2 separate regions of the Homo sapiens genome follow, and region 1 is linked to region 2. The links come from fine-mapping of genetic effects on gene expression. A gene starts in region 2. The other region holds a variant in brackets. All regions are shown on one strand. Distances are from middle to middle.

What was found.
Region 1: its variant is fine-mapped to the expression of CYB561D2 in blood mononuclear cells (TOPMed, PIP above 0.99).

Annotation. Positions count from the first base shown.
Region 1 is chr3:50,179,258-50,184,624 of GRCh38, forward strand. SEMA3F (semaphorin 3F) reads left to right here. Exons shown (of 19, transcript NM_004186.5): 8 at 3,027-3,146; 9 at 3,387-3,526; 10 at 3,647-3,761; 11 at 3,929-3,998; 12 at 4,163-4,307; 13 at 5,335-5,367. Among named protein-coding and RNA genes, the nearest start is that of GNAT1, 9.7 kb to the right of the region's middle. The variant C/T (reference allele first, on the strand shown) is at 3,193.
Region 2 is chr3:50,348,171-50,353,537 of GRCh38, forward strand. CYB561D2 (cytochrome b561 family member D2) reads left to right here and starts at 2,692. Exons shown (of 4, transcript NM_001291284.2): 1 at 2,692-2,814; 2 at 3,239-3,390; 3 at 3,839-3,876; 4 at 5,071-5,367. The coding sequence starts at 3,264. NPRL2 (NPR2 like, GATOR1 complex subunit) reads right to left here and starts at 2,605. Exons shown (of 11, transcript NM_006545.5): 1 at 2,405-2,605; 2 at 1,761-1,852; 3 at 1,495-1,663; 4 at 1,216-1,324; 5 at 704-840; 6 at 515-612; 7 at 357-393; 8 at 147-240; 9 at 1-71. The coding sequence starts at 2,482. It overlaps LOC127898564 (CYB561D2-LOC101928965), which reads left to right and starts at 2,692. Exons shown (of 5, transcript NR_183066.1): 1 at 2,692-2,814; 2 at 3,239-3,390. RefSeq lists an enhancer at 2,647-2,866.

The DNA.
Region 1 (5,367 bases), 170 kb before region 2:
TGATTTCTCCTTGATAGCCGTGAAAATCCTAGATGGCATGTTCTTCCACGAGAAGGCTGTTTCTTTCTTTCTTTTTTTTTTTTTTTGAGATGGAGTCTTGCCGTATTTCCCAGGCTGGAGTGCAGTGGCACCATCTTGGCTTACCACAACCCCTGCCTCCTGGGTTCAAGCGATTCTCCTGCCTCAGCCTCCCAAGTAGCTGGGATTACAGGCGCATGCCACCATGCCCGGCTAATTTTTGTATTATTAGTAGAGAAAGCGTCTCGCCATGTTGACCAGGCTGGTCTTGAACTCCTGACCTAAAGTGTTCCTCCCACCTCCGCCTCCCAAAATGCTGGGATAAGAGGTGTAAGCCACTGGCCCTGGCCAGAAGGCTGTTTTATCTGCATTGAAAATCGTGTTTAGTGTAGCTCCCTTCATCCATGATCTTATCTAAATCTTCTGGAAAACTTGCTGCAGCTTCTCCATCAGCACTTGCTACTTCACCTTGCATGTTTATGTTTTGGAGATGGCTGCTTTCCTTAAACCTCATGAACCAGCCTCCGCTGGTTTCAAACCTTTCTTCTCCAGCTTCCTCTCTTCTCTCAGCCTTCATAGAATTGAAGACAGTTAGGGCTTTGCTCTGGATTAGACTTTGGCTTAAAGGAATGTTGTGGCTGGTTTGATCTTCCACGTAAACCAGTAAAACTTTCACCATATCAGTGATAAGGCTGTTTCACTTTCTTATCATTTGTGTGTTTACTGGAATAGCCCTTCTAATTTCCTTCAAGAACTTTTCCTTTGCATTCACAACTTGGCTAACTAGTGCTAGCAGCCTAGTTTGGGACCTATCTCAGCTTTCAACATGCTTTCCGTACTAAGCTTAATCATTTCTAGCTTTTTTGTTTTTTTTTATTTGTTTGTTTATTTTTTGACAGAGTTACACTCTGTCCCCCAGGCTAGAGTGAAGTGGCATGATCTTGGCTCACTGCAACCTCCACCCCCCGACTCCCTGCTCCCCGGTTCAAGTGATTTTCCTGCCGCAGCCTCCCAAGTAGCTGGGATCATAGGCGCCCACCACCACCTCTGGCTAATTTTTATATTTTTAGTAGAAGTGGGTTATGCCATGTTGGCCAGGCTGGTCTCCTGACCTCAAGTGATCCCCTGCCTCAGCCTCCCAAAGTGCTAGGATTACAGGCATGAGCCACTGCACCTGGCCCATTTCTAGCTTTTGACTTAAAGTGAGAGATAATATGACTCTTCCTTTCACTTGAACACTTAGAGGCCATTGTGGGATTATTAATTGATCTAATTTTAATATTGCTGTGTCCCAGAGAATGGAGAGGCCCAAGAAGAGGGAGAGAGATGGGAGAATGGCCAGTAAGTGGAGCAGTCAGAACACACACAGCATTTATCGATTAAGTTCACTGTTTTATATGGGTGAGGTTCACGGTGCCCCGAAATAATTGCAATAGTAACATCAAAGATCACTGATCACAGATCACCATAACAGACAGTTTGAAATATTGCAAGAATCACCAAAATGTAGGCAAGGCGCGGTGGCTCATGCCTGTAATCCCAGCCCTTTGGGAGGCCGAGGCAGGTGGATCACCTGAGGTCAGGAGTTCGAGACCAGCCTGGCCAACATGGTGAAACCCCGTCTCTACTAAAAATACAAAAATTAGCCAGATGTAGTGGTGGGCACCTGTAGTCCCAGCTACTTGGGAGGCTGAGGCAAGAGAGTTGCTTGAGCCTGGGAGGTGGAGGTTGTAGTGAGCTGAGATGGTGCCACTGCACTCTAGCCTGGGTGACAGAGCAAGACTCCATCTCAAAAAAAAAAAAAAAGAAGAATTACCAAACTGTGACACAGACACAGAGACACAAAGTAAGCATATGCTGTTGAAAAAATGGTGCTAACAGACTTGCTTGACACAGGGTTGCCACAAACCTTCCTTCTGTAAAAAATGCAGTATTTGCAGTGCACAAAGCCCAGTAAACTGAGGTGTGCATATGCTTCCTAATTCTTTCACTACACTTTATTGTTAGCTATGCTCTTTTTTTGTTTTTTTGTGTTTTTTTTTTTTATTTTTGTTCCTGCTTTTTGAGACGGTTGTCTCACTGTGTCACCAGGCTGGAGTGCAGTGGTGCGATCTCGGCTCACTACAACTTCCGCCTCCCAGGTTTAAGGGATCTTCCTGCCTCAGCCTCCTGAGTAGCTGGGACTACATGCGTGCACCACCACGCTCAGCTAATTTTTTTGTATTTTTAGTAGAAACAGGGTTTCACCACATTGGCCAGGATGGTCTCGATCTCTTGACCTCATGATCTGCCAGCCTTGGCCTCCCAAAGTGCTGGGATTACAGGAGGCATAAGCCACCATGCCCGGCCTCTTTTTTTTTTTTTAAGATGGAGCCTTGCTCTGTTGCCCAGGCTGGAGTGCAGTGGCATGATCTCGCTCACTGCAACCTCCGCCTCCCTGGTTCAAGCAATTCTCCTGCCTCAGCCTCCCGTGTAGCTGGGATTACAGGCACCTGCCACCATGCCCAGAAAATTTCTGTATTTTAGTATAGGTAGGGTTTCACCATCTTGGCCAGGCTGGCTTCCAGCTCCTGCCCTCAAATGATCCACCCACCTGGGCCTCCCAAAGTGCTGGGATTATAGGCATGAGCCACTGCAGCTGGTCTATTAGCTATGCTCTTGAGGTGATTTACATTTGTTGTGTCTGTGGGGTAGAAATACTGTACAGTGGTGTTGGCAGCTCTTCCTGATTTTGCTTTCAGTGACCTCAGGTTGGTAGCTTGAAATTAGTTGTGGCAGGAGTATTCACACCACAGAAATGGGCTATTGCTACTAATCAGAGCTGATAGTTACTAATCCCAACCCTCCCAGAGCCAGTGGTGAAACACTGACCAGCACTCCACTGGAGATAGGATCATGCCCCAGGGAGCCTGAGCGGGGAGATAAGGCCCTGCCCTGGAAGTCATCTGAGCTGTGCCCTGGCCCTAGCAAACAGCAGCCCCCCAACTGACCCACTGGCCTACCCACAGATGAGGAGCTCTATGCTGGTGTGTACATCGATTTTATGGGCACTGATGCAGCCATCTTCCGCACACTTGGAAAGCAGACAGCCATGCGCACGGATCAGTACAACTCCCGGTGGCTGAACGGTAAGCGCAGCCCCAGGAGCCCTTCCGTGGCCATGTGTCTGGGATG[C/T]GGCAAGGAGGTCGTAAAGAAGCACATGTGGGGGAAGTGGGGACATGTTTAGCCTATGACTACCTGGGGCAGGGGTAGTTTCTTATCTGGAGAGGAGTTGGGGGTGTTCTTGCACCTGGCTGGGGATTCTGTTGGAGAACATCAGGGGCACCATCAGAGTAGGGGCTCACCCAGCTGACCCCTGCCACCTGCAGACCCGTCGTTCATCCATGCTGAGCTCATTCCTGACAGTGCGGAGCGCAATGATGATAAGCTTTACTTCTTCTTCCGTGAGCGGTCGGCAGAGGCGCCGCAGAGCCCCGCGGTGTACGCCCGCATCGGGCGCATTTGCCTGGTATGCATTGGCAGAGCCACCAGGCTGCCCCTTCCACCAGTTCTGGCTTCATCAGCCCTGCTCCAGCCAGGGCTTGGGGTCAAGAGCTGATCTGACCCGGCCTCTTGCCCCACCCCCCAGAACGATGACGGTGGTCACTGTTGCCTGGTCAACAAGTGGAGCACATTCCTGAAGGCGCGGCTCGTCTGCTCTGTCCCGGGCGAGGATGGCATTGAGACTCACTTTGATGAGCTCCGTGAGTGCCCAGCAGGCAGGCAGGGTGCTCTGGCTACAGCAAGAGGGATAGAGGCGGGATGGGCGATCAGGGTGCCTTTGGTGGGCCCCCTCCCCTGTGCAGGAGTGGGTGGGGCCCAGGGGCTCCCGCCCATGGCACCCTCCAACACCTTCTCCCTCTGTCCCCAGAGGACGTGTTTGTCCAGCAGACCCAGGACGTGAGGAACCCTGTCATTTACGCTGTCTTTACCTCCTCTGGGTGAGGCTGGGGTCAGGGCCAGCAGTGGCAGGGAGTGGCCCCGTTGGGGGATTGTAACTCGTGGAGAACCCCAGCCCGGTGGCGAGCTGTGGGGAGGGGGCAGTTTGGGGAGGGGCCCTAGGTGGAGGGTCTGTCCTGCTCAGCAGCGCCTGCCATGCCCACAGCTCCGTGTTCCGAGGCTCTGCCGTGTGTGTCTACTCCATGGCTGATATTCGCATGGTCTTCAACGGGCCCTTTGCCCACAAAGAGGGGCCCAACTACCAGTGGATGCCCTTCTCAGGGAAGATGCCCTACCCACGGCCGGGCACGGTAAGGACCCCACTCATCCTGCCTCTCCCCTTTCTCTTCTTCTAAGAGGCCTCTGGGTCAGGCTCTTTGCAACATGGGCCCCACCATCATGGCCCTCCCAGCCAGCGGAGGCGGTGAGCTGTAATGCACACACAGACGGGCCTTCACACACAGTGTCAAGCTGTGGAGGAGCCCAGATGGGATTCTGGGACAAAGATGGTGGGTTGGGCGTGGTCGGCTGCTCCTCAGAGGGTCCTCTGTGGGGCTGTTTGGGAGCTGAAGGTTGGGGGGAAGCGTCTTCCCTGCAGGTGCTGGAGGCAGGCTGGAGGTTGGCTCAGCTGAGGAACAGGAGGCAAAGAGCTGGGGAGGGGCAGGGCCAGGCCTCAGGCAGGGTCTCAGAGGTCACAGAGGCATGTCACTTTATCTTGATGTGACACCGGCTGATGTGGGAGCCTAAGCAGGAGAGCAGCGGATCTGGTCCAATGCAGTTCTGACTCCATGTAGTCAGGACTGGGCTGGAGAAGCTGGTCTCAGTGGGGGACAGGGGAAGCTTCCCTCCAGAGGTAACCTGGAGTCAGAAGGATGGGCCAGAGGTAAGCTGGCCATGACGGGGGGCAGGCTGAGCCCAGGTTCAGGGGACAGCTTCAGGAAGGAGGAGAGTGAGCCTGGTGTGTGACAAGGACGTCGGGGCCTGCAGTCCAGCTGTGCAGGAGGGAGACGGGTGAGACCCTAGGAACAACCAGAGAGGAAGGAGATGACAGGGGTGGGGAGGGGGACATGGAAGGGAGTGGTCCGCTTGGCCAAATGCTGCCACGAGGTCATGGCACCTGAGGCCAGGGAGGTGGCTGTGGCATTTGGCCACCTGGGACCTTGGCCAGAGCAGGACCTGTAGAGGTCAGGTGCAGGGCAGAAACTTGGAGAGCGGGTTTGGGGAGAGGAGCAGGTTGAGGTAGTGGGGACAGACAGTGCAGCGGCCTCTTCTGAAGCTAATGGCTCCAGCCTGCCCTGCCCAGGCAGCCTGGGACTGACACTCGCCACCTGTCCACAGTGCCCTGGTGGAACCTTCACGCCATCTATGAAG
Region 2 (5,367 bases):
TCGCACGGTAGTGCCAGGGCTCAGGCTGCAGTATAGCTGGAACACATCCCGGAGACTGGCCCTCTTGTGCCCTGTGGGTGCCAGGGATCAGCTCATCATGTGGCCCTGCCCTCCCCAAGATGGCTTCCCCCAGAACCCACCACTACCTTGCTTGGTCACGTAGGATAGACATGCCTCTTGCAGGGACTTGTCATCTACCAGGTCCTGGACCTTGGGCGTTGGGCAGTATACATTGGAGTACTAGAGGGTAGCAGAAGGCATAGGGGCCTGAGTGAGGGGCTTGGGAAGCTGACACAGCCCTGGTCTGGTCCAGCCACATGATCCACTCTCCACTTAACCAAACCCAACTCACCTACCTGGAGGATGGACACCAGTGTCACAACGCCGTAGTACCTGAGAGAGAGAGCTGTGCTCAGCTTCTGAGGACCATGCCTTCCCAACCCTCACACCCAGGGCCCCTGAGGTCTTCCCTGGCTGGTGACCTTGTCCCAGGTATGACTGTAGGCCCACTCACAGCAGGTTCTGGATAGCAATGCGCACCAGGTTGAGCTCCACATCTGCCTCTGCTGAAATCTTCTGGATGTGGCGGAACCCATCAATGTAGGGCAGGATCTGGGCAGAGTGGGACAAGGTCAGAAGAAACAGGATGAGGCCAGGGCTGTGGCCAGCCCCAGGTGATGATACCCAGGGAGGGATGGCATACTTGTTGTGTAGTGAGGTCCCACTGTGAGTTGAAGAAATCCTCCTTGTCTTTGGTAAAGACAGGTACATCATACTCCTGGGCCACCGGAGGGTCTGGCCGCTGCTCAATCACCTTCAAGTGGATGGTGTTGGACTCATCTGCAGGGGGCCCCATCCATATCCTCAGTGCCACTTCTTCCAAGAGGTCCTCAATTACCATCCAGGCCTCCCAGCATCCCTTGGGGCAAGCAGGTGCCTCTGGGTAGGGCTAATCTTTCTCTTTTTATGGAGTGAGAAACGGAGGCCCACAAAGGGGAAGGAATTGCCCAAGGGGCAGAGCTGGAGAGCTCTGCTTTCCCCCTACCCCCAGTCCCAGCTCCATCATGCATTGGACCCTGGACATGGGCACCTCAGCCCATGGCTATTTCCTGCCCACCAATGTGTTCATGAGTCTTGCCCTTCTCCCTGACTAGCTGGGTTCACTTTCCCATCTCTCCTCTACCCCTCTGCTGTCCTTGCAGAGGCTGGCCATACCAATGGGCAGAGTGCACCGGCCTGAGGCATTTAGCTCCTCCAGCAAGATGGTCATGATGGGCACCAACTTCTGCTTGCTCTCCTCCATGGACACGAAGCTGCTCTCTAGCTAGACAGAGCATGGAAAGCATGGTGGGCACATCCCAGGACCCCTGGCTGGTTGGCTGCCCTGAGTCCTGAGCTGGTTTGCAGGGTCCCAGGTTTGGGGGACTTTGGAGACATGGGAACACCTTCCCCAACTCTGCCTGTCGGTAAACCCAAGCCCATCTCATTGCAGACCTCTAGTGTGGTCAGATAGCCAGCCAGCTTTTTAACAATGGGCTCGAGGGCGCAGGTCTTGGCCTGGGCATCACACACGAAGCCCAGGTTGAAGAGGAGAGCATTGCGGCTGTACTTCTTGTGTTCGATGCACACAGGACAGCCGATCAGCTTCTTTTCCATAGCTGTGCTGGATAATTGGAACACAGTCAGGCCCCCAAGCCTGTCCCTTCCTCCTCCTGGGACAACCCCTGCCACCCACCGCTCACCCCGAGCTAGGGTCTCACACAGTGATAAGCTTGTTCTGCAGCTCTGGCTTGGTGATGATGTACACTTGGACTGTGTCAAACAGCTCTCGGGAGATGAAGTCTTCAGGGACCTGGGGAGGGGAGTGGCAATGGGCCCCTCAGTGGACATCTGTACTGGGTGTAGTACAAATGGTGACCTCCTCATGCCCCCCAAGCCCAAGTCCTCTTCTCCAGCGTTCCCCTCTCTCCCATCCACTCAGGCCTATTACTTCTTTCTGTTTCCAAACATACGCTATGATCTCACCTCCTTCCTGGCTTCTGCATATGCTGTTCCCTCTACCTGGAACACTTTCTCCTGCCTTACCTAAACTTCCTATGCATCATTTACTCTTCACTCAGTTCAGGGATACTCATGGGTCACCCAACTCACCTTCTGTGGGACCTGGAACCCCCCAACCGGATCCCTACAGCCCGATATCCTACAAACACTGCCAATGTGACGTATGTCTTCCCTGCCACATTGGGAGCCGGGGGCCTGGGTCTGACTATCCTCTAGCCTCACAGTTGTCTGCGAATGAAGCAGCATGCCTGCGTGCAGCACGGGAAACTACTGCCTTCAGGCAGCCAGTTGAGCTCTCGAGAACGTCCCTCTTCCCGCCCAGTCCCGCGAGCCCGGGTGGCACCTGATAGGTGATCTTGGGTCCCAGCGTGGGGTGGAACTCGCTGAAGAATATGCATTCGATGCGGCAGCCGCTGCCCATGGCAATAACCGGGCCCAGGCCCGTAGCTCCTCGTTCCTCGCGCAGAGGCGTCCCCACCTCCTGTGAACACTTGTCAGAGACAGCCTCGAGGCCTGTGTCGCTGGGGCACGCAAGCTTGCCAATCCCTCTGCCCAATGGCGCCTGCGCAGCGCGACTCAGAGGCGTGGCTGGGGCGGGGGACGGCTCGTCCCAGGAAGTCCTGGGTGGGTAGACGTCGCACCCGGAAGTAAAGCGGCTCCGTGACGGAGCGGCGGTGCGCGCGGCAGGGCCCGGAGTATCCCGCTTTCTTTGGAGGAAACCACCGCATCAGATCTGCGCTGCGGCAGAGGCAGGCAAGTCCCTAGCGTGGAGGGGCAGCATGCTGGCAGCACTTGGGGAGGCGGTGCGCTAAGGGATTCACGCTGTAACTGGGACCGCAGCAGGGAACTACAATTTCCATAGTGCTCCGCGCCCTCCCAGCTGGCTCTACTGCCGGCGACGGCGTGGTACACGCTGGGATTTGTAGTCTTACATGGCTTTGCGCCTCCTACCTGGAAGGCGGGCCAGCGATTGGTACCAGTTCAGACATGGGTACACGTTGACAGGCCGCCGGCCGTCGACTGGCATGTTGTGACCATTCCTGGTGCTGGTCTTGGTACTGTTCTTTCCTACCATAACTTATTGGAAGAGGGTGGCATTCCTGCCTTGCAGCCTTTTCTCCAGTGAGGAGTGAACAGTGGGCACCTGAGATCCTGGCCCACGCTACTATGCTTTCAGGCTACAACCACTAGCACGGCTGACGATGGCCCTTTCTGCGGAGACCGAGTCACACATCTACCGAGCTCTGCGTACTGCTTCTGGCGCTGCCGCCCACCTTGTGGCCCTGGGCTTTACCATCTTTGTGGCTGTGCTTGCCAGGCCTGGCTCCAGTAAGTAGAATTCATAGCTGACTTCTGGGAAGGGAAGGGCCACTGTTCCTGGGGAGGAAGGGCAGTGGGACTTCCGGGAACAGGCCTGGCTGGTTGAGGGAATTCTGTGCTGGAGCGATGAGTGAGGTGGAGCAGGTAGGTATGGCCAGGGCACACAGAATTCCTGGTTTGTCTTTCCTTCTCTGGGTGCTCCATTTGGCTGCCTCTCAGGAGGTGTAAGGGAAGGAGGGAGGACTGCCAGAGGAGTGGCAAAGCATGGCCTCTGATCCAGGAAGAGGCCAGGAAGAGAGGATAGGTGTGGGGTCAGCTTGTTGCAGAGCAAGAAGGGGCTCACAGTTTGGCAGCACCTCCTTGGGTGATGGGCTGCTGGTATTCCTCAACCCTTAAGGATTGGTATGGCTGGTTTCTTCTTGCCTCAGCCCCATGAGGCCTCCTCTTCTCATTCCAGGCCTGTTCTCCTGGCACCCGGTGCTTATGTCTTTGGCTGTAAGTAGTGGGCCTGGGCAGTTCTTAGGGGTGGGAGCATGGGCATGGTTGGTGGCCCTGGCAGCCTCTGAATCTTTGTCCACATTTAATATCTGTTTGGAAGAGTTGCATGCTCCAACTACTCCTGCCCATGGTATATATTTCAGACTTGAGGCTGGGCACGGTGGCTCATGCCTGTAATCCCAGCACTTAGAGGCCGAGGCGGGCACATCACCTGAGGTCAGGAGATCGAGACCATCTTGGCCAACATGGTGAAACCCCGTCTCTACTAAAAATACAAAAAATTAGCCGGGCATGGTGGCACGCGCCTGTAGTCCCAGCTACTCGGGAGGCTGAGGCAGGAGAATCGCATGAACCCAGGAGACGGAGGTTGCAGTGAGCCAAGATTGCGCCACTGCACTCTAACCTCTAACCTAGGCGACAGAGCGAGGCTCTGTCCCAAAAAAAAAAAAAAACCCAAAAACAAAAAAACCCCCCAAAAAACCAAAAATTAGCTGGGTGTGGTGGCAGGTGCCTGTAATCCCAGTTACTCAGGAGCCTGAGGCAGGAGAATTGCTTGAACCCGGAAGGCGGAGATTGCAGTGAGCCGAGATCAGGCCACTGCACTCCAGCCTGGGTGACAGAGAGAGACTATCTCCAAAAAAAAAAAAAAAAAAAAAAAGAGACTTGAATCAGAGTAATGAAGACCCAGGACCCAGGTCAAATGGGTAAGATTTGTCTAAGCACAATGAGGCTTCACCCACCTCTAGGCAGAAAGCTGAGACATTGCATTTGGATGTACCTCTGTCCCTTTTTACTTTAATTTCTGGTGATGCACCTAACTTTCCCTGAAACAGTGCACCCATGTGGCCAGCTCTTGCCAAGAAATTGTATCCAGCCCCACGTTAGGGAAACAAAGCTTGTGAATCATTTATAACTGCCACATCTCAAACCCTGTGTTTGCTTGGTAACATACGACAGATGACATTTCAGACTGGCACCTAGGAGGAAGTGTGGAGATTATTCAGGGCACATATATCATCCCAGATGGGGTTTTCCACTCTTGCCCCACCAAATGGATAGTCTTGTCAGTGGGGAGAGAAAGAAAAAGGGGAATCAGCCCAGACTCACTGGCAGCTAAGGGTTACATAAAGCCCTCTTCTCCTCTTCTGGGGCAGCACCCTCACTTGAGCTTCCCATCCCCTGTTTCCTCAGTTCTCCTTCCTGATGACCGAGGCACTACTGGTGTTTTCTCCTGAGAGTTCGCTGCTGCACTCCCTCTCACGGAAAGGCCGAGCACGCTGCCACTGGGTGCTGCAGCTGCTGGCCCTGCTGTGTGCACTGCTGGGCCTCGGCCTTGTCATCCTCCACAAAGAGCAGCTTGGCAAAGCCCACCTGGTTACGCGGCATGGGCAGGCAGGGCTGCTGGCTGTGCTGTGGGCAGGGCTGCAGTGCTCAGGTGGGGTGGGGCTGCTCTACCCCAAGCTGCTGCCCCGATGGCCCCTGGCGAAG